Homo sapiens: one gene and its partner. The protein of the gene in region 1 purifies or fractionates together with the protein of each later gene. This does not show direct contact. Each region holds a gene or a part of one and is shown in the gene's direction. Other genes may lie near its edges.

What was found.
Region 2: the proteins of AASDHPPT (region 1) and POTEI purify together in Homo sapiens (affinity purification with mass spectrometry; 3 studies listed by BioGRID and IntAct, with this or other methods). This does not show direct contact.

Annotation. Positions count from the first base shown.
Region 1 is NC_000011.10:106,087,377-106,103,797, forward strand, and holds the end of AASDHPPT (L-aminoadipate-semialdehyde dehydrogenase-phosphopantetheinyl transferase), read left to right. Parts: intron 1-3,180; coding exon 3,181-3,302; intron 3,303-3,939; coding exon 3,940-4,101; intron 4,102-7,206; coding exon 7,207-7,278; intron 7,279-9,366; coding exon 9,367-9,531; 3' UTR 9,532-11,319; downstream 11,320-16,421. UniProt on the Homo sapiens protein: Catalyzes the post-translational modification of target proteins by phosphopantetheine.
Region 2 is NC_000002.12:130,480,835-130,497,255, reverse strand, and holds part of POTEI (POTE ankyrin domain family member I), read left to right. Parts: intron 1-633; coding exon 634-704; intron 705-6,515; coding exon 6,516-6,586; intron 6,587-7,976; coding exon 7,977-8,021; intron 8,022-9,057; coding exon 9,058-9,224; intron 9,225-13,376; coding exon of another isoform or gene 13,377-13,442; intron 13,443-15,182; coding exon 15,183-15,253; intron 15,254-16,421.

The DNA of each region.
Region 1 (16,421 bases):
ATATAATTCTATTATATACAGTTTAGTACTTAGAAAGTGAAACTATTACAATTTCTAATATGATTTATTATCTAAGGCTAAATTTTGGTACTTTGAAGCAAGCACGTAGATGGGCATTGCTTAACTCCCTTCCACTTCCCTCAAAAATGACCAGCCCATTTTCCTAAAGGCTGAGGTAGTTATATGTATATATTTGTGTATACATATTGGTGACCTTGTTTTGGAGAGGGATTAATGTCGTAGGCCCTGAGGTTCTGGATTTTTTTCCGTAGGCCTGAAATAGTTGCTCAAGGCATTGGATCTAAATGATTTTGTTGTATGTTACTACTGTGTTTAAAATAAAACATTAGTTGCTGGGTGGTCTTGATTAGTTAATCATTCCAGAATACAATATCTAACACTGCTCTCCCTAATGATCAAGCTATAAGATGGAAGATCAGGTTTTTCTAAATTTGACTGATGATTCTCTGTGTATGTAATGGTATTATTAGAACTTGCCAACGTATGTGCAGTAATTGTGCTGTCTTCAAATAGTTTAAGGGACAAATTCACTGTTCTTCCTACCGATTTTTCTTTATTCCAGTTTCCTAGGTAAACTGCACTTAATACTTAACACAATATTTGCCCACTGTATATCCACCATAATGCCACAGTGTGGCGCTGCTGTGCTTTGGCCGAATATTTACGAAATCACCTTTTCCTATTGCTGTCAAATTTTTTATTTTGTGGACTAAATAAGATGCTCTAAAGTATATGAAAACGCACTCGTATCGGATATTTTTTGGCTGTACATAATGAGTTATGTGATTGCTTTCTAGTGATTGTGCCAGATTGATTGCCTTTTATGTTAATCAGTTTTTTAATAGCATGCTTATTTAAATTTTTTTCCTTGATTGCCCCATCTTATTTAGTTAAAAATCAGAAGGCTTCTTGGAGGTTATAAAAATAAAATTTGAAGAAAGCAGCAAGCAGAATGACACTATAGATGACAAAATGCGTATCTTTTTAAATGCAGATTTTTTGGACATTAATCTGTTAAAACTACAGTTTCACTCAAAATATATAATGCAGGCTTCCAAACCAAAAATAGTTTATTCCTCCCATTATTGTTACATATGCTGTTTGTGCCAAAATCCATTCAACAAGAAACAGTTTTTGATTTTTGTAGATATAGTGTTCCCAATGTTTAAAATTTCCAGATTTACTTTTGTTACTTCAGAAGCTTTCTGTCTTTACTTTCTTTGAAGTGTTCTTTAAGATGTTACTTATCAAGCCAGTATGTACTATTGATGCATTGAACAAAAAAGTTTTTATTGAGGGGCTTCTATTAATGTTAGTCTCAGGAAGGTGTTGAGGAGTAAACACCAGACAACAAAGGGATCCATGGCCCCAAAAGGGGTAAGAATTTCTTGCCATTGAACTCTTAAGATCACAATTTAATATTTCGGTGCCTAAAAATGAATGAGGATTCTTATTTTGATCCATAGTACCACATATCAGCAACAGGATCGGCAGAAATACTTCCTGATGAACTAAGAGGAGACTATTTTGACTCTTGAAGCGGGAGTACTGGGAGAATCATAACTATTTCATGACAGAACCGATTTTTAATATACTCTACCCTTGAGATGATTGTGGGAAAGGTATTTGGTTACTGCAGGAGAAACTGTAAACTCTCTGTGAAGATAAGGACCATGTCTGTTTTGCTCATCATGCGGTTCGTGGTACCTAGCACTTGTATGCTTTTAGTGAGTGATCATAATGGAATTCTAATTGTTGAATTCTCATAGAGAGAATTAGTGATTAAATGCCAGTGAAGTATTAAGGGGATGTTCAACATCTTCAACATCTTTTTTCTCCACATATTTATTTACATAAGAAATGCCCATAGAGTGTGTGGTATCAGCTATCATAAGAATTGTGTTAATCATTTGAGAATGTCAAATTTTGGAGTTGGTTATTTTAGAAGTGGGAATTGGAGTAAGCCCATATTAACAGAATCCACAAAGGGATTACCTTCAAAAGGTTTTCTGGAAAATAATGTAATAATGAACTAAGGATACAGGGCAGAAGAATATTTAGGAAATAATTTACCATATAATAGTTAACATTCATGTATACACTTAGTAAATGTTTGTGGTTCACTTACCTTGGAACAGGCTCTCTGATAGGCCCATTAGGCTGTAAGTATAAAAGGCAAGAACAGTGATCAATTTACTTTTAATATTAGTTGAATATGTATTTGTGTAAATATTTATACATATTATGCATATTTATATAAAATGAATGATGGTAGAAAGTTTGTGCTTGGTGGTAAAGACACACAAACACATAATTTTAATGTTTTGGAAAATTCAGTACCAGAGGCCTACCATGAATTTTAACATGTATCTTACCCCTTGGTTCTGGGAATCAGATCCTTTGAGTTGTATCTTTTGTCATTTATTTTTAGAATGCTATGTAATATTTTGTTATCTATGAAATAGTGGCACTAAAGATATATTTCAAGTTTTTAAAAATGAGCTTATTTTGCAACTGCAACCACGAAAGAGTAATGAAAATCTTTTTATTTGAATAAGTCATATTAGAAAACAAGTTGGAAAACATTTTGAAGAAGGTATTAATTTTTTAGCCGTGGCAATAATGTAGAATAAAAGAACAGTTTTCAGCTTTCTGCTAATTTTCCAAAAATTGTAATAAAAGAATTATTCCCTTTTTTTCTCTGTTACATAACAAAATAAAACTTTAGAATAATATGGCTCTACTTTAGGAGTATTTTAATTGGGCTTCTGATAAGTATCCTTTTATATAAGAAATTTCCTGTTATTTAAAATTTATAACAGCTTTGGCTGCTAAATTTTATCAAAACTTTTTGGGACATATATTGATACAACCATATGGTTTTCCTGCTTACTTAATAATTTACAGAATATCACCAATTCCTGTTAAACTACTCTTATATTTCTGGGCTAACCACTGCTTGTCATAGTGTGTTTACTCTTTTAATTTTCAACTTGCTTTGACTTGCCGAGATTTTGTTTAGGATTATTTTAAATGTATTCAAAAGTATGGTTGCCCTTTAGATCTTTGGGGGGTGCTGTCTTGAACAGTTTTAGTAATAGAGCAACTTTTTATTTTTTAATAGAACTGCTATTTAATTTTTTATTTCTTAATTGGCAGGTCGTGGTTCAATTCCAGAATTCTTTCATATTATGAAAAGAAAGTTTACCAACAAAGAATGGGAAACAATCAGAAGCTTTAAGGATGAGTGGACTCAGCTGGATATGTTTTATAGGAATTGGGTATAATTCTTTCTAATTTTGAAAGCAAAAGTCTATAATGATTCCATTATCTTCACTTAAAATCAGAGTCCTTGGTTACCCAGTAGTGTCCAAACAGTGCTTGAAGTAAATGGGTGATTGCTTGAGAATTTTATGGTTTTTATGCATATGGTATTACATTATAATGACATTTCATTTTAAGAAAATTTAACCTATATGTAATGCTCAGTTAGAAAGTACTTACTTAAAGCTAAAACAAATCATTACCATTGATAAATAATATTTTCTGTCATAAAGGAACTAATACACATGAGGTCCTATATAACAAACACTGATAATATATACTACATGCCAGAAGACATTACTTCAAGCTCTAAGTTAGTTAATTTAATGTACATAACATCCCTATGAGGAAGGTATTGTTATCATCATCGCAGGTTACATACGAGGGGATACAGGCACGGAGAGCTTAAATGATTTGCCCTAAGATCATATGGATGGTTTGTTTTCATGCTGTAAGGGTTTTTTTTTAAAAAGGTTATAGCTATATAGCCATAATGTAGTATAGCATTGAAACTCCCTATCTTTTGGACCTGTAGATTCTATGAAAAATTTTTGTCCACCAAATTCTAAGAGAAAATGTCTTTCTGTATCTTAGGCACTTAAGGAAAGCTTCATAAAAGCCATTGGTGTTGGACTAGGATTTGAATTGCAGCGGCTTGAATTTGATCTATCTCCATTAAACTTGGATATAGGCCAAGTTTATAAAGAAACACGTTTATTCCTGGATGGAGAGGAAGAAAAAGAATGGGCATTTGAGGTAAGAAATTTGTTAGAATTGTTAAAACTAAGAATTTCTATTTTTTATGCATGTATGTGTGATTAATTTGGGTAAGCTAGTCACTGAATTTGGACGCAACTGAATCCAGTCCTGCTGCTCTGAAAGTGAAATCAGGGCTACTATGAGAGCATGTAACATTTATACTAATACTTGAAAGAAGTTGAAAGATGAGTCATTGTGAGTTCAGTACGGGAAAGGAAAAGAGGCTCTGACAAGGAGCTTTGCATGTATGAACAGCCAAACGCAGCCACTTTGGCTGGGCCATAATGAGGGTATTTAAGAGAGATTCCAGATCAGGCTGGTAGATCCTACAAGGTATTGATCAAGTTAAATATTTTGGTTTCTTACTGTATTTTGTTTCTGTCACTGGCAGTTCCTGGTTGCTAGTGAGAGAAGCCAACACACACAGCCAAAAAACCCCCCAAAACAGTATTATAGGTTACTAGAGTGATTCAGTAACTGTCCCCAGTATTAGCTAGAATTAGGGGATGAAATATTTAGAGCTCTTTTTGTCTCCTAGTTTTGCCTTTCTCTACATTTTGGCTTCAGTTTTCTCCCACCCATGTTTCTCATTCTGTACACCAGCTTTCTCAGCCTCTCTGGTCTGCATGACAGAAAACATGGCTCTTGCATGTAACATACTGTTGCATGTAACAGTTTATAAACAATTTACAGTTTAAAAACCTAAACAAACTGGTAAACTCACTTTCTGTTCCAAGCCCAAAAATCCTAGAGAAGGGATGCCCTGGCCTAGCTTGGGCTAGTTGTTTATCTCCAGACCAGTCATTATACTGTGATTGGTCCTGCTTGTGTCCAGCAAACGGGCTATAGAGCAGTTCTCTGACTTACAAGATCATCTGTTGAGATACTGAATACTAGAAAATAAATGAGATGTTAAGTTTGAGATACCAAACATCTAAGTGAAGATGTCAGATAGGTGAATGGAATGGAGGGCTGGGCTAGAGGAAAAAAATTATAATCATAATGGTTATAAGTATAACCATTATGTCAATGGTAGTTGAAACCATGGATTTGAAGTTGAAACTGTGAGATTACCTAAGGAACAGCTATATATTGAATCTATGAAGAGAGAAGTGGAAATTGAAACCACAAGAAGTTAGAAGTAAGGCCTAGAATAGAGCCCTGAGAATATATATGGTCCCCAGTTTATGATGGTTTAACTTTTTTTGACTTTATGACAGTATGAAAGTGATAATGCATTCAGTAGAATTCATATTTGCAGAACCCACGCAACCATTCCTTTTTTCATTTTCAATACAATATTCAATAAATTACATGAGCTATTCAGCATTTTATTATAAATGAGGCTTTGTGTTAGATGATTTCGCCCACTGTAGGCTGATATAAGTATTCTGAGCACATTTAAGGTAGGCTATGCTATGCTATGATGTTTGGTAGGTTAGGTGTATTAAGTGCATTTTCCATGTAACCATATTTTCTTACAGTGAGTTTATTGGGATATAACATCATCGTGAGTCGTGGAGCATCTATACTAATATTCAAAGGTGAATTTGTGGAGGGGACTGATAAAGAATGACCAAAATGGTATAAGAGAGTAGTGTTGGTATCCAAGGACAGAAAGCATTTTGAAGAAGAGAGCTGGGTCAATAACTGCTAAGGACTAGATGTGGTGGTTCATGCTTGTTATCCCAACACTTTGGGAGGCCAAGACACTGCCTCTACAAAAAATTTAAAAAATGAAAGTTTCAAAACAGTATATCCATTAGTTAACATTCTTTAGTGTCCAACTATCAATTGTTAGTGTACATACACCTCTCATTATACATTAAGCATGATTCTTATTTATTGAAATATTCAATACATATAAGAACTATATCTTATATGCTAAATTTCTGAAAAATTATTTTAGATATTTTTAAATTTGTACATTCCAGTTACTTTTTTCTTGTTTGTTTAAAGAGAAAACAGAACAGGGCTACATAGCAGACTTACTTTGCGATAACTTTGACATAGTAAATCTTCTGATACTTAGTCTTATATTTTTCCTCTTTAAACATATCTTAAATTTATCCTTACTGAATTTCACTTTATGCTGACTTGGGTACCTGAAGGTATGAAGATAGGAAGAAGAAGATAAAAAATGAAAAAGCTCCCTAAGTACTATTTCTAATTGTAGTTTCTTCTGACGTTTTATGGAAGAATGCTTTAGTAAAGTGGTTTTTCAGTGAAAAGTTTGTTCAGCTTTTAAGTGTTTACAATTTTTTCTGGTAACTGCTTCAATATATATTACATTTTAAAGTCCCCTTCCCCTTTGTCTCATATGTAGAGGAAAGTAGAAAATTGCATATTGGTTATGTTTTACCTATAAATTTCCACCATGATTTTTCATACGTGATAGTATGTAGTTTACTAAATGCTTACATACCAATGTTGCAACTTGATTTTTTTTTTTTAACCTTGTACTTTATTATACATACTAACATCACCAGTGAAGGACAGATAGCTGTCAAGTACCTCTAGATAGGGCACATCACCTGTGTAGTATTCTGGTTGAGAATGCATAACCTAATCCACTCATTAAATATCAAACAAACCCCAAATGAGCAATATTTTATTAATAAAAAGCAGATTTAGGGAATTTGTACTTTAAAACGTTAATGTCATAAAAAACAAAAGAAAGGCTAACAAGACATGACAACTGAATGCAATACTTGTCCCTACTTGCCCATTACTGGGCTCCTGTTCTGGAGGAGGGATATGCCACAAAGGATGCTATTGGATTAATTCACAGAATTTGGAATACAGCTAATAAAGTATTGTTTCAATGTTAAACTTACTGACGTTATTAACTGCTGTGGTTATGTAAGAGAATGTGCCTACTAGGAAATACATGTTGAAGTATTTAAGAGTAAAGGGCCAGCACATATGTAACTTCTAAAGTAGTTTAGCGGAGGTGGGGAAATATATATATGCACGCGTGTGAGTGTACGTATATGTATATATATATAGAGAGAGAGAGAATGAGATTTAGAAAATGTAAACAAAGTTACATCTAGGTTTACATATTTTATAATCTATATTTATTTACCTTTTATCTTTCAGGAAAGCAAAATAGATGAGCACCATTTTGTTGCAGTTGCTCTTAGGAAACCCGATGGATCTAGACATCAGGATGTAAGATTTTAGGATTTCTCTTTTTTCTAAATAGCATGAATCAATGTTAAGTTTGCTCTTTATTGATGGAAATAGTCATTTGCCTTATATCAGTTTAGAGAGATTTTTTTAAGATTATAGATATAGTAGTACTCTTTATTAGCAAATATTAAGATCACTAGGGATTTTGTAGAAACATTTTTAAAAAGCAGCTGGGCATGGTGGCTCACACCTGTAATCCCAGCACCTTGGGAGGCTGAGGCAGGCGGATCACCTGAGGTCAGGAGTTCCAGACCAGCCTGACCAACATGGAGAAACCCCATCTCTACTAAAAATACAAAATTAGCCAGGTGTGGTGGCGGGCGCCTGTAATCCCAGCTACTCAGGAGGTCTGAGACAGGAGAATCGCTTGAACCTGGGAGGTGGAGGTTGCAGTGCACCAAGATCGCACCATTGCACTCCAGCCTGGGAAACAAGCGAAACTCCGTCTCAAAAAAAAGAAATGTTACCCGCTTCTTCACATTCGTATACGCTTAAGTATTACAACAAAAAAAAATATGGTAGTACTATCATGCTACTCATATTTCCAATAGACATTCAAGATTATCTTAGTCATCTTAACAGTAGTTTATTTCTTGGTGAATTGGGGTTGTGTTGAATGTAAGAGTACCACGTTGAAGGTTGATGAGTAATGGAATTACCTTGCAAATTGAATCCACTCCTCCTTTTAAAGTAATATCCTGAATTATTCCCAAAGTTACAGTGTCAAACATGTAAGAGACCTTGTGTCATATTGTGGCATAACATCAGTTTCAATTATTCAGCCACAATGTTTTTATACTTTCTTATCCTATTACCTGGTAAGCAAGTGGGGGAAGAACTTAGGGTCAAAGACTCTTAGATTTCATATAATTGTGATTCTGCAGAAGTATTTATTTAAGGAAAACGTATGTTTTAATGAAAACTACATGCATTCCATTATTTTTAGTAAATCAACATGAAAGAATGTAGCATGATCAATATATATGCATCGTTACTTCCACAAAAGTAGCTCAGGCAACACACCAAACCTTTGATAGATTAATCAAAGGATTACGAGTTCTCCATAGATTATCTTCCTTAAAAAGGGATGGCATGTTAAAATTGACACCTGTTATCTGAAGATGTTCTGACCCAGGTTACTCGTCCTTCTGTTTTTAAATCTCAGCTTCACACTCCCTGCAAAAATACCTTTTGTTTTCATAGAGCTTTATAATTGTTGAAACATTTGCATATTCAGTACTTTTCATTTCCCTGGACAGAGCCTGTTTAGGCAACAGTGGCATGTTGGGAAGACTAGAGTACAATTCACAAAATTGGGTTCTAGGCCCACATCTACCATTTAACCTATGTTTTGAGCTTGGACAAATTGTTTGAATTGTTTGCTCTTCCTGAGCCTCAGATTCCCCATCCATAAAATTAAGATAACCGTATCACAACATAGCTATGAGACCAGTCATATAAGTACTGGACCTTGACTTGTTAAAGCGCTATACAAAACCCAAGTACTATTTATACTAGATGTGTAGAATATTAAAGAGGGTCTGCACTGGGTTCAATTGTGAACAAGGGCTCTATCTCAGAGAGTAAGATACAGTTTAAATTTAATATTGAATAAATAATTTCCTAAAGAAGTATACATCTCTGTATAGTTATGGCAGTTTTATCAGACCCACCTTTTAGAGTAGTATTTCACAAAAGTTCACTTTCTCACTCACCTCTATCAAAATAACCTGACTGCTCGTTAAAATTACAGATTTTGATATCCCTTCTAACTGATATGTAGTAAATCACACTTTTTGGATGTGGGGCCCAGTAAATCTACATGTAAAATACCACAGGTTTTTGTTATATAAAAAAGTTCAAGAATCAGGTTTTCTATTTCATTTTTTTTTGATTTGTTGTATTGGCAACACTAATATAAGAAATACAAACAATGTTCTAGGAATCCTATGTTGTCATTTAATACTACTGAAATGTAAGTTGGTCTTACTTATTTTCATGATTATGAAATTGATCATAAGATTAACATGCAATATAACAATAAGGTAATCTGCTTTTGTCTTTTAGGTTCCATCTCAGGATGATTCCAAACCAACCCAGAGGCAATTTACTATTCTCAACTTTAATGATTTAATGTCATCTGCCGTTCCCATGACACCTGAAGATCCTTCATTTTGGGACTGTTTTTGCTTCACAGAAGAAATTCCAATACGAAATGGTACAAAGTCATGATGATTCCCTGAGTAACAAAGGGAAATGAAAACTGTTTGTGATCTTCCGTATTCACTGAAAAATAAATGCTTGTTTAGTATCAAATTTTATTTCACGAAAGTTTTTTTAAAGAACAGAAACTTTTCCAATTAAAAAAAAAAAGCAGACTTCTGGTTCAAGATAGCTCACTGGAATACATGTTTACCTCTTTCTTTCCTAAATTGCATTGAATTGATAGGAAGGATGGCGGAATCTTAAAGTGATACATGCTAACTGTAGAAAAAAATAGAAAATGCACATAAGCAAAAGGAAACATTTAAATGCTATCTTTCAAAGATAACTACTCTTAAAACCTTGAGTATCTTTTCAGACCTTTTTCTTGGCAAATGAATCCATATTGACATATTTGATTTTTTTAAAAACATGGAAACGTACTGTTTTGTAAATTCTTTTTAACTGCACATCTACTGTTCATAAATATACCTCTGTAACATAACTTTTTGTGGTTCTAATGTACTCTGTTGTATAGCTAATACAAGTTAGGATGCTTTTGGCCAGAGGTAACAGTGTCCAAATATAATTGGCCTAAGTAACCTAGGAAATTGTTTGACATAACACAGGGTTCAGGGGTGTCATTAAAGACACACTTTTTTTGCCTTGACCTCAGTTGGTTTGTTTTGCCTTAGGCTATTCCACCTCTCGATCACAAGAGCTGCTGCTATAACTTCCAGTTTTACATCTTTGTAAAATTGTATCTCAAAGGCAGAAAAGGCCATTTCGTCTCTCATTTGTTTTATCCATGAGGAAGATTTTTAACAAAAGCCTCCAGAAGATTTCCCCTCAGTTTCCATTGACTTAGATCAGGTTACAGAGAAAGGCAATGTCTGACATTTTTGGTCTCTGTTAGAAGTAGACTCTGTTGAAAAGAAAGAAGCTAAGCTAGGTGTGAAGAATGGAATTGGAAGCCCACTGCCTTCCCATAAGAAAGGTTTACCATAATTTACTCACTTTTTTCTGTGTTAGACATTTTGATTATCTGCAGTTTATTACTACAAGCAGTGGCAGAGTGAATGTCCTTGTACATTTTGAGTTACATGCTTAATTATGTCCTTGAGAAAGTTTCTAAAAGTGGAATGATTGGTTTGACTGGTTCATAGGGCTTTAATTATACAATTTACCCCTCTAATTAGTACTATATGTATGTGACTTCCCTCCCCCTGCCAGAATACTCCTTGGTCAATTGTAGGTATTCTTTTTGGTTTAATTTTTGCCAATGTAATTAAAAAATGGTATGTCATTTTTAAAATTTGTATTTCTTTCATTACAAATAAGATTGTTATGTCAGTATTGTTATTGGCTTTTCGTATTCCTCTTAACGTGAACCGTCTGTTCATTGTTTTTACCTGTTTTCGTTTTAGCAAGTAGTACTTAATTTAAAGTGTGAACTTAATATATAAGATGCCAGGACCATCATATTGATGACAAAAATCTATTATGTGGTTGTAGTGCATGTCTTGGAGTTAAACTCTTAAGTATCAAGAAGTAAAATAATTTCATTGTTTCTGTTACTAACATTAAAAGTGTGCAAATTGTATAAAATTAGGTACTTCGATTAGTAAAAGAAAAAAATTTGAATGTTTTTTTTTTTTATTTTATTAAGCATGCCCAGTTATGCCAAGCATAGTAAATAAAGGTCAAGTAGCATTTATAATAGAGGAAGTATTGTTATCCCTAGCATGAGTGTAATGGTGATATGAAAAACTTTGTCTTGTCATTATAATAATAAAAAAATGAACATTTATTATGGAATTTCTATGAGCCTGACACTGTGTTGGATTTGTGTTTTTTAGTTTTTAGTTTTTCTATTACTTTTAATCAAAGTTTCATGTGTACACAGCTTTAAAAAATTGGATAGATCTGTAAGATTTTTTTCCTAAGGAAAAAGGCCATTACTCTGACTTCTTCCATTTCCTGTCTCCAGGGCAAGCCCTTTCAACTCTTTTAGATGTTATTTTTTTTGTTATTTATTACCATGTCTCCAAATGACATGCTTATATTGCTTTTACTTGATTTTTTAATTTTAGGCATTGTTTCTTTGATTTTCAAAATAAAGCTTCCCTCTTCTGCTTCCCAGCATTACACATTCCCTTTTTATCCCCTTTTCTCCTCCCAACATAACAATTCAATGTTTACATTGTTGACTGTGATTACACTAAGGATATGTGTACATTATTGAGATTATGTAACTGCTGTATACAGCTGAGTGATGTATTATCCTTACCATATACTAATTTCTTATTTCCTTTAGTTAATTGACTGCATAGATTTCTACCATATGTATGAATATCTTCTCTATATGTTCAAACGTAACAATGATTCCATCAGTTTCTTTCATCTTTTAAAAAATCACTCCTAGAGCAATCTGCTTTGTCCAAGTTGGACTTTGTGCCTTCTATGGCTGGTGTACAGCTGTAATCCTGGGATCTCCTTTACCATGATCCTGGGGATTGTCTCTCCTGTGTTGGATTCCCTGTTCCCCATTTGCTATCTCTCACATCTTAGATTTACTCCATTCATGTGAAATAGCTTTTTGAGAACAAAGTGGGCATAGGAGTTACATTTTTTGAGACTTCTAAGAGGAAGGGACAGTCCTATGCAGAGTGGTATAGGGATCTAGTTGTTTCTTAAACCCATTATCCTATCCCCCTCCACATGAAGCTCTTTGTTAACGCTGTATTCATATCCACTTTTTCCAAGTATTTGATGGCTGCATTTTGCTGAGTTTTGTGCTGGGCTGGCACATGCTGCTTCATACTCATGTCTGCTGGGTCCAGTTATAACATACTGACCAATGTATGGCTTTATTGGTCTCTGTTAATGTGTTTCCTGCATAGGAACTCTCATAAATTTATTTTTAAAATGAATCTGTATATTTGTGTCTCTTCCATTTCAGACTCAGAAATTGAAAAGATTTGGATAAATTTTCAGTTAAATTTTTCACTATCAAAATTAGAATTGTTACCTATTCAGAATCTGAAACTCAAAAACCAGTTAGGTTTGAGTAACTCAACAGCTCCTCACTAGTGGAACTATTACCATCTGAACTTGAGGACCAAATAGATTTATAAATACACATATGCAAATATATCTTTGGTCAAAAATATTCCTGAAAACAACTCCAAGTATCAGTACGTTTAAAGAGGATATGAAGAGAGCTAATGAATGATGGATTTCATTTTTATGGGGGAAATAAATATACCTTCATAGTATTTGTGAATTTGGGATTGGCAAAGGTCTTTGGATGTATTCCCAGTTTATCAGTTAATGTCAGGTAACTGCTGTATATGTCTTATGGTATTTATATTAGAAGCTATTTTGCATCTTAAGCACTCACATATCAGGCTATTTAATTCTTATAACTCTATGGAGTTGTATTGATGGGGAAAGTAAGTTACTGAGTTCTTGAACAACTTACTAAAGGTTATATATTCATTGAATACTGAAGCTTGTTATTTGATCAGAGTTAGGCTCAGATCTTTAGATCCAAAACCTCAGTCAACCACTATACTTAGTGGTGTGCTGGTAAATATTTAACAACCAGCAATCCTGGGGCAGGGAAGAAGAGACCTTTATATGTAGCTTTTGCTTATTCCATGAAATAATGACGTGTAACCAACACCTAGGTTTAGCACATGTTGGCATTTTGTCATATTCGCTTCAGATCTTTTTTCCTCTCATTTCAGGAATAAAACAAATGCAGCTAAAGACTTCCTACCCCCTAGTTACCACCCCTTCATCTTTCCCTTTCCAGGGATAATCTCCAATATTTGTAATTTTATGCTGTTATGCGTTTACTATTTGTATGTATAGTGTTTTGTGATTAAATCTTACATTTCCCTATTAGGATTGAAACATTAGGATGGAATCTCTTTGTGTGCTACTTAGAAGTAACAACAGTGTCAGAATAATTGAGCTCACTTAAGCCCACACTTCTCAAGGAGTATACATACTTAGGAGTAGGCACTGGTGTGTGGTAGTAACTCATCAAAAGATAGCAATTGGTCATCTAGAGGCATTCGTTTTATCTGAAATTTTGGAAAGAATCTTTTCATAATAAAAGTATTACAGACATTGTAAGTAGCATGCAAATTTGCCTGTATTTTAAGTAAAAAGGTGTGGGGCTTCAGAGGAATTTTCCTGCCCACGAGTACATAGTTGCTGTTCTTTTAGGGTCATTTTTGAATGAAAACGAATTTCATTTTGAATGTTTTTCATTTTGAATGAAAAAACATTGGAAAGGAGCCAGCATTAGAAGGGGAAAAAAGTAACATTTGTTGAGTACTTAAGCAGTAGAGCCCAAATCTTGGTGTGGTATACCCCTCTGCAGGTCACCTTTAGGGGACTGACCGTGTTGCAGGTGTAAGACCACTTTTTTACTATCCTAGAAGCCTTCAGCAATAGGCAAGTGAAATCCCATAAATTTGATGCTCCTGATAGTTCCATGAGTGTTTTCGGTTGTTACTTAGCACCCTTTAAAGCTCTTCATGCTTTTTCCAGTGTTGCATGAGCAAGAAGCCTGCTAAACTAGTTGTTCTTTTCCCCTCTAAATCCACTATCTTTCACCCTTCACTACCGCAGGAAGCTGACTTCTATGTACCTTGTTGGCCAGGCTGTCTTTTCCTTGATCGGGTTTTGCAAATAGAGGTGGGGGAGGGTATTAGCAGAGGACTAGGTAGAAAGGGAAATAGGATGATTATCCACTTGCCTTCCTGCCCTGCAGTGGCTTGGAAATAGCTGTGTTCCTCAGCATCACAGCTTCTGACATAGCCTTCTCCATATATACATCTCATGGGTTCAGGAACAACTTTTCCCTGCCTTTTCATTTTAGAAGTAGAAAGATCTTGCTCTTGCTTAGCCTAAGCTGCTGCACCATCTCCATAGATTTTTGTTATTCTTGCCTACACCCTCTTTGATCATTACTTTTGGTTGTGCCATCTGTTTCCTGCTACAACCCTGACTAATACAGTAATTTGTACCATGAGTAGTCCTGGGAAAGTGGAATTCTGGAATTGGATTGCTCACATATTTGATGTATATACAAATAACTTCCTTGTCAGGGAAAATGGATGCTTATCATTGGTGGCAAGTGGTGATGTCACAATTGCTTACATCATTACTAGTAATGTCATGGAGTCATGGAATACAAGTGGAGTACAGTGTTGGAAGATCAAGGGGCTGTGGCACATAGTCACTATGGTCATGGTAGAGATTACAGAGATCGTTAGGAGGACTGGCTCTTTTGAATGTCTAGAGCATATACACAGGGGAAAGGACAAATTGAAAGCAAAGGGAAAAATTGGGAAAAAAACAAAGCATCACAAAATCTATGGCAACTCTAGGGGAATATCTTGTATTTTGTAGATATAGCTAAGACTCAAACCTAGAGCTTTTATTGTAAGGGCTGCTGAGTTGTAATACCAATTACTGGCCAGTACTGGGTCTCACATGCTAAGGTAAGGGCATTGGTATGGAAGAAGTGGGGCCTTCAGAAATGAGATGGGAACATTTGGATCGCCACAGGAAAGGCTGAGAAGCTTAAGCCTTTTACATTTCCCTGAAACTTTCCTACTGGCAGAGGCAGCCCCATTTGTCTGAGGGGGAAGTCTTACCTCCTGATACAGTTTCAGATGTCATGTTGAATTCTAATCCCCAATGTTGGAAGTGGGGCCTGGTGGGAGGTGACTGAATCATGGGGGCAGATTTCTAATGAATGGTTTATCACCATCATCTTGGTGCTGTCTTTGTGATAGTGAGTTCTCGTGAGACCTGGTTGTTGTAAAGCAGGTGGCACCTCCCCCTCACTCTCTCACTTGCTTCTGCTTTCTGCCTACTCCCCCTTCACTTTCCTCCATGAGTGTAAGCTTCCTGAGGCCTCCCTAGAAGCTAGGCAGATGCCAGCATCATGCTCCGTGTAAAGCCTGCAGAACCATAAGCCAATTAAACTTTTTTCTTTATAAATTGCGCAGTCTCAAGTGTTTCTTTATAACAACACAAGAATAGCCCAGTACGCATCTCCACTTGCCCTGCAAAGGAAAAACAGTGTATCAATGAATTCACCTGAGATGGTTCTCTCATAAGCAGGTATCAGTTAACCTCAGGATTTACATCCACTATCCATCTTTACTTTTTGGAAAATAACAAATACCCTAAACAGAGAAGTATAAGATCAGGTCCGGAGGAAGGGCCTATTCAGAAGAGTTGCAGAATATTGCCACTTTGCATTGTAGGGATTTGGAGGACAGAATAGGAGTGGATTCTAAGGGTATTTGACCAAAAGGGGTTACATCAGATAAGGCAGGCATACTCACAGAAAATGTGAGTTAATGTGTTGGCCTGAGAATCTGGGAATGGTGATAAGTCTGTCACATTGGTTAACTAAAACCTAAACTCAGTGGTGGCCTACAGTCAACTGTGTTGAAATGTTAGAACTTTCCTGACTGAAAGAGTCCAGAGTCTTAGGAAGACAGGAATGCGGATCTGTTCTTTGCTAATCTGCTCATTCATCCTCTGAGGGATGGGCTTAGAAGACCATCACTTCACCAAGGATGTTTTTTTAAATCCATTAGTAAAGGAGTACCTTGAAAAGCCTTGTGGTATCATCTCTGTAGATCAAAGATGCTGCAGTGAATTTAGGTTACTTGTTTTCAATGGGAATAATGCGATTCCAGAATTGTTGAGATCATGAGATGGTACTTGAGAGTAATAATCAAAGGGTCTTGTGCCACAGGGGTTTCTGGTGATGGTTCATTGATCACAGGGTCTCTAGGAGTAGATTAAATGGGCAGCCTGCAAGGATCTGTTTGACACATTAACAGAAAATTTCTAGGTCTGGTGGACAGACACTTGACTGA
Region 2 (16,421 bases), on another chromosome or scaffold:
TAGTTGAGATGCCCTGAATTATAAGCCATAAAGAGTAGGACAACTAAGAAGCAAAATTAGGACTTAATAACATTTTCTGAAAACTACAACATTTGCATATTAGAACCTATGAACAAAATACGCATTGGGTTTTATTTGGGATTCCAAGATAATTTTAGTCATAAAGTTTAGGAACAGATTATTCCATTGCTTTACTATTTCTCTGAGCATTTAAAAAATGTTATCTCGTTAAATCTTTATAACAACCTAGTGAAATAAGGCAGCAAAGTCCTCACTTTGTTGAAGAAGACATTGAGCCTAAGAGAAGCAAGTTGCCCAAGAACAAATAGCTGTTCATTATGGAGCTAGGACTTATGCAGAGTTGGGACACTTTCTATTATGTCATGCTAATGCTAGCTAATTTACTGGGTCACAGTGCCCTTGATTTATGAGTATTTCACCTTACATTTTTTTCGTCTTTAATTAGAAGCTTAAAGAGAAGTTTGTAGAATGTACTCATAAGTGGATGGGATAATACTATTAAGTTCTGATATTCTGATATTGTTTGAAATACTCTTAATAATTCTACATTTGGTAAGTTTTTTTATATCAGTATTAAAATAGTAATTTGGTTTATTACATTTTTATACATAGAATTTGCCAGTTACTTTCTGACTACAAAGAAAAACAGATGCTAAAAATCTCTTCTGAAAACAGCAATCCAGGTAAGACTTGTGATAGTGAATTACTTTAGTCAGTTGTCCCCAACCTTTTTGACACCAGGGACCGGTTTTGTGGAAGACAATTTTTCCATGGGCTGGGGGAAGGTGGGGATGGTTTCAGGATTATTCAATCATGTTACATTTATTGTGCTACTTTATATTATTATCACATTGTAATATATAATGAAATAATTACACAACTTACCATAATGTAGAATCCGTGGAAGCTCTGAACTCATTTTTCTGCAACTGGATGGTCTCATCTGGGGGCAAAGTGAGACAGTGACAGATCATCAGGCATTAGATTCTCATACGAAGCACACAACCTAGATCCCTCAGATGGGCAGTTCACAACAGGTTCATGCTCCAATGAGTATCTAATGCTATCACTGATCTGACTGGAGGCAGAGTACAGGCGGTAATATGAGCCATAAGGAGTGGCTGTAAATACAGATGAAGCTTCCCTGGCTTGCCTGCTGCTCACCTCCTCCTGTGTGGTGTGGTTCATAATAGTCCATGGACTGGTATGAGTGTGTGGCCTGGGAGTTGAGGACCCCTGCTCTGCGTGGTCCTACCATAGATAAAAAAGTAAAAGTAAGGAATTTTTGATCACAAAAGAACACTGAAGCACAAGTCATGTTACATATGCTTGTCCCAATAAGGTCTCACTATTATTGACTTCATTCCTCCTCATTTGAAGTTGGAAAGAGATATATTTACTTTGTTGGAACAAGATGTGTTCTTCTACCTGCTGGTTAATTGTCATCATAACAGTAATTTTGTTAGAACAAGATGCTCTGCTACCATTTGCCAAAAGATTGTCATAATAAATATACAAATTGCCCAACTCTAGGCTCAGCAGATTATAATAAAAGCAGAAAAACGTTTCACACTAACAAAAATGCTAGTATGCTACCTGGTTGTGGACACCTAATACATTATATAGTCCAAACTGTATGAGGACACCTTTAATTTAGCCATCTATTTATCAAAGAGCTTTTGTAAGTTAGGTTTTATAAGTCGCAGGAGACAAAGATGGAATAGATGTAGTTTTGATCTTTAAGGTGCTCATAATAGAGCTGTCTCCATTTCATTTCTGTGCTTTTTCAACAGAATTTACAAAGAAAACATTGCTATTTATGTTTTCACTTGTCCACTTAACATATAACTATCAAATGTCTTTTAGATGGTAACCATTTTTCTAATGCTATAGACCACAGACAATTAAAAATACAGACAGGAGCTTTTTCTTATCATTGCCATTTTCATTATTTTACTACTTTATTCAGTGCTTACTGTGTGCTAGATGCCCACTGGAAGCTTATAATTATGATTTATTATATATTGATTATGTGCCAGACATATGAGGAATGAAAGTTTTGGGAAAAAGTAGGTATGATTTAAGGTAAGCATGCAGAGAGAGAAGAATTTTTCTAGGTAAAGAAGCAGAAGAAGAATGTTTGGCAGAAGGAACATGCAGCGAGGTCGTGTGTTTGCCAGAAGGAACATCTAATGAGATTGCCTGTTTGGGAGGAAGAGCAGCAAGTGCAAAAGACAAGATGCTTGAGTGAACATGGCAGGGTTTCTGAGCAGTTCACTTTTGCTAGTACCAAAAGTGTGAGATACCAGAGGTTGGGAACGAGGTGAATACTTAGCTAAGGCAAGTTTATGATATACTTTTTAATACTATAGAGATGAGTAGGTCTTATCCTGTGTGCCATGGGAAATTTACCGGGTAGAATGCTTTGGACTGCAAATACTAGATGAACAGTGGCTAAAACAGTAAGAACCAGAGTTGTTTTGGTTGTTCATTGATATCCTAGGATCCCACTTTTCCCTCTTTCAGCTGTGCTGTTGGCAGTGTTTTATTCACGTCTCCTTTCATGGTTGGCTAATCCGCAGCAGCTCCAAACATCTTGTTCTCACAACACAACATCGCAAGGGCTGCTTTTCTTCACATGTGTCTTTTAAACAGGGAGAAAACTTAGAAGCATGCAAGGGGCTTCCTGTAACATTTCATTGGCTGGGTCACACCACATGCTCATTCCCAAACCAGGCACTGGGAAGGTAAATACCTGATTAGCTTAGAATAAACATTTCTGTTTCTGAGGCTGAGGAGGGGGATTGGGATAATAAATATCCCAATAGACTTGGATTTCTTCTTCAAGAAAGAATAAGGAATGGCTACTGATAGGGAGCCAACAATGTGTGCTGCAGGGGCTCATTGGAGAAATTTGAGCAGGGGAGTCACAAGATTAAATTTGAGTATTAAGGCATTCTGGTTATGGTGTAAAACGGGTTAGCAAGCTTTTTCTGTAAATGGCCAGGTGGGCAATATTTTAGACTATGTGGTCTCTGTCATATCTACTTAACCCTGCTGTTGTCTGCTGTTGTAGTGTGAAAGCCACCATGATTATATGTAAGCAAACAGGCATGACTGAGCTCCTATAAAACTTTATTTACAAAACCATAATGCAGATTGGATTTGGCCTGTGGCCTATAGTTTGCTGGGATTGATGGAAGGTTCTTTACCATGTAAAGAAACCAGGAGACAAAGGAAGTTTTTGCAGTAGTCAGCTATAGTTTCCTTGTCATACATCCTTGGAGTAGCATCAATGTATTACAAGGTTTTCACCCGTCCTTAGTGAAATACATAAAGTTAGGAATCTCAACTACTTGTTTTAATATGTTGGCCTTTGTTTTTTTGGTGATATGCTTTTTTCATTTGTTTTGCTTAATTTTTTTTCATGTAAGAAATAACATTAATAGTTGGCAGGCTTTTTTTTTAAATAAAAGCCATTTTGTAAATGTTTGTGTTCCCAGTGGCAGTGGGAATATAAAGCAGAGGCAGAAGAGAGGTATCGTCAATATGATTTAGTAATAATTGAATGAGAAAGGCTTGGGGGACAGAGAGAAATGTCAGATAATTTCCAGGTTTCCAGGTTGTACAGTAGTATTTAACCTGGATGTGAGGAAGAAGGAGGAAATTTTCTGGTGAATACTGAAGAGCAAAGAGCAGCAGGTCAGCAGGAATGACTAATGTTTTTCTATGCACGTTTAATGGAATATTCATGTAGGATATTTTGAGTAGGTAATTGGATAACCAGCATTTATAACTCGCATCCTACTAGTTTGACTCTCACTAATAAGACTTGTCAAAGATCCAAGAATCTGAAAGTTGATGATAAATGTCCATGTGTATCACCATCAATGATCAAAAGTTAGCATCCACAGACATAGAATGGGACAGATGAACTTAATGGATAAAGATGAATATCGGAGTTGTTCCTTTTAGGGAATGATACTCTCCATGACCTGTGTGAGTCACAGCTGCCAGAAAAGAGCGAGCAAGGAGCATATGAAGGCAGCACAGCAAATTCGGTCCTAGAGTGCCCTGCTTGACTTCATGTCATAGTTCTGACTTCTAAAAAATCATTTTCTGCAAAATACACTTTGATTTTTTCCCCGCTTGCAGCCTGCAACCAAACAGAATCCCTTTAGCAGGGCATTTTTGTGTTCTTCCTTTAAACAAAGCAATATATAAATAACAAAATGAAAAAAGAGAAAGAGTGTTTTTTGTATAGGCTAGTATTTAACATAAACTTGAGAGTGAGTACCAGGAGTTAGAATTTATGGACTGGGTAGGAAGACTAGATAGAAATCTAAAGATTGCTGACTCAAACGCAATGTGGTTTCTTTGCTTTATTGTCACAGCTCTGAATTCACAATTATTAGTTAAATTCATAGGCACTATAACTTTAGAAATCACCTTCCCAAACCAAGTATTAAGTGATTTATTATAATTTCTCTGACTTCTTATAGAATTGACTTTCCAAGTGTTCATGAGAATTATTGAGAATTTGCTACATAGTATCATCTCAGCTGTGTCCACATGAGCTATCTGTCACCTTGTCTTAATGAATAATGGTTCACTAGGAATATTGGTTTTGGCATTTAAAGTGATCTATATCTAAATGCAGATAGGATCAGGGACCTCTCTTGAACATTAATGTCCAGGCATCTTAAAATTACACATAAGGCTTTCATAATCTGACTTCTGCCCCACTCTCCATCTTTAGGCCTTTTCCCTGTGTGCCCTTTCTCTGGCATTACTGAGCTGCTGGCAATGCCCTACTCACTCATCCTTCTATTGTAGGCAAATATTTTCACTCTTTCAGGCCTCGCTCCCGCTCTTGCTGCTGTGTGGCATGCCGTCACCCTTTCCTGCCCTCTACCCCTTTTAATCTGGCTAGTCTCAATATTTAAGTCTCTGCTTGGGCATGTTTTCTAGAAAAGCCATCCCTGACATGCTTTATTTTAATTGTTTTTAAACCCTAATGCCTAGCATGTATTTAGCAGGACTCAATAAGAAATTTCTGAGTAAAATGTGAGTAAGATGATGTGCAAGACTGTCCTCTGCAGTCTTGGAGCAGACGGGACAGACATGTGGAGGAATAATGTAGAGTTCAGGTGGTAAAGATGCAGTAGAAAAATCAGTGAAGTACTAAGGCAGCCTCAAGGAAGGAGGTACCTGTTTATCTGGGGAAAGACATGCAGAATCAAGGAAGACGTTCTCATAGCATTGTTTTAAAAGATAAAAATAAGGATAAGTGTGGTGGCTCACACCTCTAATCCCAGCATTTTGGGAGGCTGGAGCAGGCAGATCACAAGGTCAAAAGATCAGGACCATCATGGCCAATGGTGAAACCCCGTCTCTACTAAAAACACGAAAATTAGCAGGGCATGATGGTGCATGCCTGTAATCCCAGCTTCTCCGGAGACTGAGACAGGAGAATCGCTTGAACCAGGGAGTGTCAGAGGTTGCAGTGAGCTGAGATTGCGCCACTGCACTCCAGCCTGGTGACAGAGCAAGACCCTGGCTCAAAAAAAAAAAAAGAAAGAAAAATGAAAATAAATATGTCTGAATCGTGGAGGGAAACATTTTAGATATTGGGAAGAGATTGTACACTAATAAAGGTGTCAGTAGTAATTTTTGAAATCATTTGTAAGGTACTATTGTTGCAGAAAACAGGAGGCAGGAGAGACCAAGTGGGTGAAACAGGAGGATTTCATTTAGGTTCGCACCAGCTCAGCGGATTTGCATCCGAAAGCTGAGCCCTGAACAAAGACAGGGCTTGGCTTATGTAGGCAAGCTTACAGAAGCAGAACAAAGGCAGTTAATCATATAGTGACAGTTTTGCAACCTCAGCGTAGCTTATGACCTTGCAGCTGCATTGAAGGACAACAGGAACTTGCAAATAATATGCATTTGTAAAAACAGCTCTGAGTGAATGCTGAGGGGAAGGGGAGACAGTAAAGGATTTTGTTTTCTTAACCTTGCTGTGGGATGTCTGGAGCCCATACCTGTGGGCTCTGGCTTCTCAGGCAGGGTCACCATGACCTTTCCTGGGCCCTGCTTGTTACTATCCTTAGAGTCAGACTAGCTAAGTGCGGGAAAACTTGTTTCTCTTTAAAACTAAATTTCCTTTTCTTTACATTTACTGCTTCACTATTAGGAAGTGGAGAACAACATACTGTGTTACCTTATATGTTTCTACTGTATTTTAAAGTTGTGTTTCTGGTGGTTTTGTTCATTTATGTTGGGTGGATGAATTTGTGAGTGAATGACATCAGGTGTCTCCCCAAGTGGTTTGTTGAAGTTTGGGAGAATTATTTCCTAAATAACTATTTCATGAAAAACTAAACACTCAATTTATGAAATAAAATGTTGTCTTAAATCTATTTTTATAAAGGCAATAGTTTTTAACTGTTCTAAGTGGTTCATTTTAACTGAATATATGGATTTCTCAACAGAACAAGACTTAAAGCTGACATCAGAGGAAGAGTCACAAAGGTTCAAAGGCAGTGAAAATAGCCAGCCAGAGGCATGGGAAATTTTAAATTTAAATTTTTGATTTAATGTTGTTTTCTTTGCTTTAATAATATTAGATAGTCCAAATGAAATTACCTTTCAGACTAGGTTTTGAGAATCAATAGATTTTTTAAAGAATTTTTTAATAGATTGTTAAAATTTATTTTAATAAATTCAGTAATCTCATTAACAGAAGAATGGATTCTAATTTAACATTTGATATTTAACTTAAAAAACATAACCACTATAAAATTTAAAATACTCTTATTTTATAATATTTTTATTTAAAATATTCTCATCTGCCTTTTTGATTAGCTTATAGCTAATCTTTCCTTTTGGAATAGAGGCAAAAACAAATTTCAGAACTTTGTTCTTTTATTTTTACAACACCCGAACATGATGAAGAAGGTACATCAATTATTGGATTATGTTATTAAGCAATAGAATTATGAACAATGTAACTCTGATGGTCCCTGAGCTGGATTCATGGTTAAGGAGTAATCATGGCCAGTGATTGAAAATCTGCAGTTTTATATTGTCAGTCACTGATACCAAGGTTAAAAATATATTCTGCCTTATGGTCTCTCATTGACCTCAGCGTTTCTGTTCAGGGAGGGAACCAGGTCATAAAAGCAACACAGCTGCCTATTACAAGAATCATATCTTGCAGAATGGAACCTTTGGTGTTAGTGCACAAACACAATAACATTCTAATTTATTTCAGTTGCAGAAAATTAGTACATATTATTAAAAAAATCTTTATCCACTGTAATTAGTACACATTAGAATATATTAGAACTGGACTTAAGCAGATAATCTGGATACATAACACTATCATATGACAGTATATAATCTCAATTAAAATTTGAGAAATTGCATCTCTTTCTGTTTGGTGTTGATTTCGGCTCCTAATAATTTAAATGGTGCCTACAATCCAGTTAGGAATCTTTTAGAAAAGCACTTCAGTGCACTGTAGGGGCTCACTAGTTAGGGTTTCATGAGGTAAACTCTTTTCAAGTGAGGAAGATTTTGGAACACTACAAATCATCTGCTGATTCATTTTTGGTAGATTTAACACATAACAAGTTTAGTCCAAACAAATGGTGACCAAGTTAAGTTTGCTGGTTCACGTTTTTTTTCTTCGTTGGGCTAAGGTGAATTATTTTTCACATGTTAGTCAGAAGCCAGTAATGTGGCAGTAGCTAAACATAGATTAAAAAGTTAATTCTTAATTTTAATTATTATTTATTTAACAGTTAAATTTTAATTTTAATTATTTTCTAATTTTTCATCGTCCATACTTCATTAGTTAAGAATAAAATTTTTTTAAAACATGCGCTCCAAAAGAGGAGACATCACAGAAACACAACAAGCAAATTAACCTTCTGTTTTTGCCTCTGCAGAAAATGTCTCAAGAACCAGAAATAAATAAGGATGGTGATAGAGAGGTATACCTTCATATTCAAATGTTTCTGTTGAATTAGATTTTTACATTATGTTGTTTAACAAAATGTAGTAAGTGTAGGCATACATGATCCTATCATGTAAGTAGCATAAATCATGAGTGAAAAAGTTAATATTTAACTCAGAAAGAATTCTGTACTTTGAGTTTTCAAGAGATACAAAGCCTAGAGATATTCTTTGATTATTATGGAACAATCCTGAATGGTGCCATAAAATGCTAGGTAATGCCACTTTAGGAGCTTTGGACCAATCATTTTATCTTTCTTGGTTTTAGTCTGATTATCAATAGATAATGTGGCTAAAGAAGATAGCTTCTTATTCTGTGTATCTTCCAGCTAGAAAATTGTATGGCTATTCAATGTGAAATTTGGGGAGCATCTCATTTTCTGGAATTCCATGCTTGCACGTCAGCAGTTTCACTCTGCTTCTTGTGTTGTGGCAAACTTTGGCTCCCATTTTCAGTGAGCACCATCATGTTTTTGATATCCCAGCAACCAAATGAAAAAAGAATGCTCAAAGGCAGTGGGGTAGAAGAATATCTTAGCGCAGAAAAGGGCAAACTTCCTTTCTGTTCCTGAAGCCGCACAGTGTGTCATCCTCTAAATCTGACTGTTTAATGTAAAATCTAGGTGGTAAAGACAGAAGACACATTTTGCATCTTTGTCTTTTTATTTGCGTGTTCCCATGAGTCAAATGGGGTAAATACATACATAAGATTCTGAAGAGTGATTGAGAATAAAAGCATAAAATGAAGGAGGGCCCTTTTTGAATTTTGGAAAATTCTGTTTCATTCATTGAAACAGAAATGAAGCAAACTTTACAAAAATTTCTGTGATATATTAATGATATGATAATTACATCTTAAAGTTATATGGTAATATTTCTATATATATGATCAAATTTAAGTGTGAAATATTTTTAATGACTAAAATAATGACAAACTGAGTCAATTGATAGAATCAATTAAAAAGGTTCTTTTTATTCAATAAAGTGATAACTATCCTTAATATCCCACTCAAGGTTGAAGAAGAAATGAAGAAGCATGAAAGTAATAATGTGGGATTACTAGAAAACCTGAGTAATGGTGTCACTGCTGGCAATGGTGATGATGGATTAATTCCTCAAAGGAAGAGCAGAACACCTGAAAATCAGCAATTTCCTGACAACGAAAGTGAAGAGTATCACAGGTAAGCCTATGGCAACATTGAACAGGAGATAACTATGTGCTGTCAAACTAACCCTAGTTTGGGCTAATATTCATGATGAACAAATTTTATAGTTTTACTAGGATATTCAGCCTTGCCCGTTAATCAGAAAAATGAAAATCAGCGAACAATGAGTTACCATTTTTCCAGGCATTAATTTATTTGAAAAATAACCAGTATTGGCAAATGTGAGGGAAAAGGCATTTTCTTTTCTTTTTAGTGAACTTTTCTTTTAGTTTCAGGGGTACATGTGCAGGGTTATTATATAGGTAAAGTGTATCATGGAGATTTGGACTGCAGATTATTTCATCAGCCACATAATAAGCAAAACACCAAAAGTTAGTTTTTTGGTCGTCTCCCTCCCGTGACGCTCCACCTTCAAGTAGACCCTGGTGCCTGTTATTCTCCTCTTTGTGTCCATGAGTTCTCATTATTTAGTTCCCACTAATGAGTAAGAATATGTGGCATTTGATCTTCTGTTCCTGCATTAGTTTGCTTAGGATAATGGCCTCCAGCTCCATCTGTGTTGCTGCAAAAGAAATGGTTTCATTGTAAAAGACATTTCATACACTGCTGGTAAATACATTTTGAACATTAATTTAGTAGCATATTCACAAACACATGTATAACAATAAGGATATATAATATATGTAAAGGATATTTGTGTAGATGTTACATATATACTTATGTATAAGGACATTTATTACAGCATTATTATATCAAAAAGATGGATCCTTATCAATAGGAAATTATCATTATCAAAAGTAAATCATTACCAATAGGAAATAGCTCAATTTTCATACCCAGAAATTAATGTAGTATGCAACCATTTTTTACAAGTGAGGTTAGATCTAGAGTATACTGATTATTTCACAATTAAAGTGTATTTAAAGCATCAGTGATGACATCTTAAGAGTTCTTGTTAAAATTCTTGTAATATTTCCTGTGTTGCAAATGGAAGCTACATGCTATATTGATGCTGTACCTTGTTAGCAACAAGATTGCTAGTTATTAAATTTTTATGTCAGTGCCTGAGTGCTGAAATATTGGACCCTCAATCTGAATATTGCCAAGGGATTGTACATGGGGATCTGTATTTAATATAAACGTTTCAGTATATTGGGTAAAACTTTTATTAAAATGTATCAAAGGATCTTTCATCTGCTAAACCAGGAGTTGGCCAGCTTTTTCTGCAAAGAGCCAGTTAGTAAATATTTTAGGCTTTGTGGACTATATAAATTAATTTATTTTTGAGACAGGGTCTCACTCTGTTTCCCAGGCTGGAGTGCAGTTGTGTGATCATGGCTCACTGCAGTCTTGACTTTCTGAGCTCTAGTGATCCTCCCACCTCAGCCTCTCTACTAGTTGGGACCATAGGTGTGCAACATCACACCCAGCTAATTGACACTGTGGACTGTAAAGTGAATAAGCATGGCTGTGTTCCAAAATACTTGACTTACAAAAACAGGCAGTGGGCTGGATTTGGCCCAAGGTGCTAGTTTGCTGACCCTTGTGCTAAAAGGAAGGTGCTGCAAGTGAAGTGACTCTTATTTGTAAAAGTGCCCTGCGTGTGTGAAATTATCCTTCCTTTGAGAAAAGGATATATTTCAGTATTCACCTCACCATATTTTTCCACAGTGACTTCATATAATTTTAAAAATTTCATTTATAAAATAAGATTATTGTCTGCATTTCTCCCACTTTATTCCTGTTAATAGAACCCAGTATTTTGCTGTGATCAATTACTTTGTATATTTGATGAGTATCAGTTGTCCTAGAATTGGCTGATTTTATCAAGCAAGAAATACTCTCCTTGAAACTTTTAGTATTTCTTGGTCTTTATGCATAAGCATGAATAAAATGATAATCAGCTTATGTGTAATCTAGAAATGTTCAAGGCGACTTTTAGTTCTATAGTTTTAAGAATTTAACACCTCAGTCTGGCATTTTTAATGCCACATGTGTATAATTTTTATAACCTTTAAAATATATTATTGTTATATAAAATTTGAAAACTACACCTGTTATATAAAACTTGAAACTATTTGTCTATTACTTTTCCATGACTGTGGAAGAAAATTACAACATTCTCAGTCATGACTCCTAAGCATGATGTCCTTAAAAGAACTGTCCACACTCACGAACTCAAATTTTCTTTTCATTCACTCTTAATCTCACACCGGCGTCTTCAATTTCAGCAGTCCTCCAACATTGTTTTTCCTCAAGATTATCACAATTTTTTTTCTGTAAATTATGCATTTTTTCTTACACCTCATTTTATTTAATCTGTCAGCAATATTTGAGCCAGTGGAGGGCGTCTCCTCCCTAACGGCGTCTTCACTTGGCTTTCAGGACCTCACTCCCTCAAGCTTTTCCTCCTGCATTTCTAGTCCATTCATCATGGTCTGTTTTGCTTGCTCCTCCTCATCTTTCTCCTTTTGGACATTGTTGTTTCCCAGGGCTCAGTCCTCAATCTTCTTTCTCCTGACTTTTTCTTTTTCTTTTTTTGAGACGGAGTTTGACTCTGTCCCCCAGGCTGGAGTTCAGTGGTGTGATCTCAGCTCACTACAACTTCTGCCTCTTGGGTTTAAGTGATTCTCCTGCCTCAGCCTCCTGAGTAGCTGGCATTACAGGTGTGTGCCACCATGCCTGGCTAATTTTTGTATTTTTAGTAGAGACAGCATTTCCCCATGTTGGCCAGCCTGGTCTCAAACTCCTGATCTCAGGTGATCTGTCTGCCTTGGCCTCACAAAGTGTTGGGATTACAGGTGTGAGCCACTGCACCCGGCCCCTCGTGACTTTTTCTATTGTGTATATGCTAGTGATTTCCAAATGTATGTCTCCAGCTCAGATCTCTCTCCTTAATTCCAGATTTCTATATCAGCCTGCCTACTTGACGTCTCTATTTGGTTAGTTATTGGGTATCACACACGTGTCAGATCCAAAATTGGGCTACTGATGTCCTTCCTGAAATCTACACCTCATGTAGTCTTTCCTACTTTGGTTAAGGGCAACTTTTCCAATTGCTCTGCCAAAAATGTCAGTGTCATTCTTGACTCATCTGTCCCTCTGACACCTCATATCTAATCTTTCAGTAAATCTTGTCAGGTCTACCTGAAGAATATGTCCAGAAGCCAGTCATATCTTGTACATCTGAGCCACTGTCATCTGCAGTCTAGATGAGTGTCATAGACTGGGAATTGATCGTCCTGGCTTTTAAAAACTTCCCTTTTCATCAATTCTTAACTCAGTGGATGTATTTAAAACATAAGTCAAATTGTGTCATTCCTCTGCCCCAGCACTTCTGATTGCCTCCTTTTCACTCTGAGTATGGGTCAAAGTTCCTCCTGATTATCTCCCTTGCTCTGCTTCAGCCACACTGAATTCTTGCCATCCCGTATCTACCCCTAGTGCTTAAAGACTCCAGACACACCTCTGTGCTTGGCAGTTCCCTGTGTCTGGGATGCTTTTTCCCCAGATATCCTCCTAGCTTACTCTTTCCATTCCTTCAGTTCTTTATTTAAAACCACCTTTCTAAGAAGAAGAAAAGGGTAAAAAGAAACACATTAAGGAACATCCACTTTCTGAGGAAGAGCCGTGTACTACCCAGACACATCATGCTTAAGATGCAATTGGGAGCATACAAGGAATGCTCTCTAAGGTAATCAAGGCAAGGTTCAATGAAACAAAGTGATTTATCATCTCTAACTTCAAACCTATTTGTATCTTGACATCAGCGCTGTTAACCTTATGTCATCGTTTCTTAGAGTCTTTGATATACAAATAAAAGGTTTTTTGTATTAGAAAAAAAAAACCCTTTCTCAGCAGGGACTCTTCTGGCCATCTCAACTTTCCCACCACCCTCCCCATCAAACACATAAACATTTCATTTTCCTGCTTTAGTTTTTCTCCTCTAACATACCGTATATTTTGCCTTATCTGTCTGTTGTTATTGTGTGTTTTTCTCACTGTCATGAATAGGGTTTTTATTTTTCACTACCATATCTTCACTGCTTAGAAAAAGGCTTAGCATATTGGATGTAGCTACCTAATAAATACTTGTTAAATAAGTGAATGGAGTTTATCCTGTGTATATTGTTTGATTGATTCTCACTTTAAAAATGTTTGCCGTAGGTCGGGCATGGTGGCTCACACCTGTAATCACAGCACTTTGGGAGGCCGAGGCAGGCGGATCACGAGGTCAGGAGATCGAGACCAGTGAAACCCCATCTCTACTAAAAATACAAAAAAATTAACCGGGTGTGGTGGCATGCGCCTGTAGTCCCAGCTGCTATGGAGGCTGAGGCAGGAGAATGGCATGAACCCAGGAGGCGGAGCTTGCAGTGAGCCGAGATCGTTGCACTGCACTCCAGCCTGGGTGACAGAGCAAGACTCCGTCTCAAAAAAAAAAAAACAAGTTTGACATGGTTCTTTCTAACAGTTTTGCCTGGTAATTGTCTGCATTTTTAAAATCGTTTTGGCTCTTTATAATAAGCTACATTGTTTATATTAATTTTTTTATTTAGGGAGAAAAGCCCAATATTGTGGTTATTCACTATTTATGCTTTAATAGTAATCATAATTGTAATTATGGTAAACTGAGTCAGAGGAATTGCAAACTTTACTATTTTATTTTATTTTATTTTATTTTTTTGAGATGGAGTCTCACTGTATCGCCCAGGCTGGAGTGCAGTGGCGCGATCTCAGTTCATTGCAACGTGGGTTCATGCATTTCTCCTGCCTCAGCCTCCCAAGGAGCTGGCCCTTGCATAAGGCGGCCACACAAATTTTTGAAGCATTCTATATTTTGCGCAGTCACTGGAAGGTCATTTGACTGTTTGCTGAGTAGCTTTAAGGAAATGGTGTGAATCAAAGCAGAATGGGTGCCACAAAAACATTGAAATTGTGATTTGCGCAATAAAAATAGTCATGTAAGGTGGTCTGTGAGATGACACCAGAGCCAAATAACATGTGGGGTGTTGTGTACAAAATATATTGTTAGTATGTATGTTAAAAATTAGAGAATGCCAACTTGCAACTTCTTCGTGGAACCTAAAAAAAAAAAAATAAAAGTAGGGTTTTCATCTCCCATGTCAGCTGGAGATGAACATGTATATAAAGCATCATCGTAACAAACATCTGGCTGAGAGTTTGAGTCTGTAGAGAAGGATCATTGGTCCAAGTCAGGTCTTAACATCCATTGGTTTTTCTGCCCTTGGCGTGATTGATCAACTCCGTAATAGTGGACAATCACATTATCTACTTTAATGAGATATTTATGAAAAAATTTAGTTACAAACTATGACATAGTTGAGATGCCCTGAATTAGAAGCCATAAAGAGTAGGACAACTAAGAAGCAAAATTAGGACTTAATAACGTTTCCTGAAAACTACAACATTTGCATATTAGAACCTATGAACAAAATTCGCACTGGGTTTTATTTGGGATTCCAAGATAATTTCAGTCATAAAGTTTAGGAACAAATTATTCCATTGTTTTACTATTTCTTTGAGCATTTAAAAAAATGTTATCTTGTTAAATCATTATAACAACCTAGTAAAATAAGGCAGCGTAGTCCTCACTTTGTAGAAGAAGACATTAAGCCTAAGAGAAGCAGCTTGTTCAAGAGCAAATAGCTGTTCATTATGGAGCTAGGACTTATTTAGAGTTGGGACACTTTCTATTATGTCAGGCTAATGCAAGTTAATTTACTGGGTCACAGTGCCCTCGATTTATGAGTATTTCATCTTACTTTTTTTTCTTCTTTAATTAGAAGCTTCATGAGAAGTTTGTAGAACGTACGCATAAGTGGATGGGATAATACTGTTAAGTTCTGATATTCTGATATTGTTTGAAATACTCTAAGAATTTTACATTTGGTAAGTTTCCAGATCAGTATTTTAAAACAGTAATTTTATTTGTTATATTTTTATACATAGAATTTGCGAATTAGTTTCTGACTACAAAGAAAAACAGATGCCAAAATACTCTTCTGAAAACAGCAACCCAGGTAAGACTTGTGATAGTGAATTACTTTAGGTCAGTTGTCCACAATCTTTTTGACACCAGGGACCGGTTTTGTGGAAGACAATCTTTCCATGGGCTGGGGGAAGGTGGGGATGGTTTCAGGATTGTTCGGTCACATTACACTTATTGTGCTACTTTATATTATTATTACATTGTAATATATAATAAAATAATTATACGACTTACCATAATGTAGAATCAGTGGAAGCTCTGAGCTTATTTTTCTGCAACTAGATGGTCCCTTCTGGGGGCAAAGTGAGACAGTGACAGATCATCAGGCATTAGATTCTCATAGGAAGCACACAACCTAGATCCCTCAGATGGGCAGTTCACAACAGGGTTCATGCTCCTATGAATATCTAATGCTATCACTGATCTGACTGGAGGCAGAGTAGAGGCTGCAATATGAGCCATAAGGAGTGGCTGTAAATACAGATGAAGCTTCCCTGGCTTGCCTGCTGTGCACCTCCTCCTGTGTGGCATGGTTCCTAACAGACCGTGGACTGGTACCAGTCTGTGGCCTGGGAGTTGTGGAGCCCTGCTCTGGGAGGTCCTACCATAGATTTAAAAAGTAAAAGTAAGGAATTTTTGTTCACAAAAGAACAGTGAAGCACAGATCATGTTACATATGCTTGTGCCAACAAGGTCTCACTATTACTGACTTCATTCCTCCTGTTTTGAAGTTGAAAGAGATGCATTTACTTTGTTGGAACAAGATGTGTTCTTCCACCAGCTGGTTAATTGTCATGATAACAGTAATTTTGTTAGAAGAAGATGCTCTGCTACCATTTGCCAAAAGATTGTCATAATGTACAATTTTCCCAATGCAAGGGTCAGCAGATTATAATAAAAATATAAAAATGTTTCACAGTAACAAAAATGCTAGTATGCTACCTGGATGTGGACACCTAATACATGGTACAATCCAAACTGTATGAGGACACCTTTAATTTGGCTACCTATTTATCAAAGAGCTTCTGTAAGTTAGGTTTTATAAGTTGCAGGAGACAAGATGGAATAGATGTAGTTTTAATCTTTAAGGTGCTCACAACAGAAGTGTTTCTATTTCATTTCTGTGGTTTTTCAACAGAATTTACAAAGAAAACATTTTTATTTATGTTTTCACTTGTCCACTTAACAAATAACTGTCA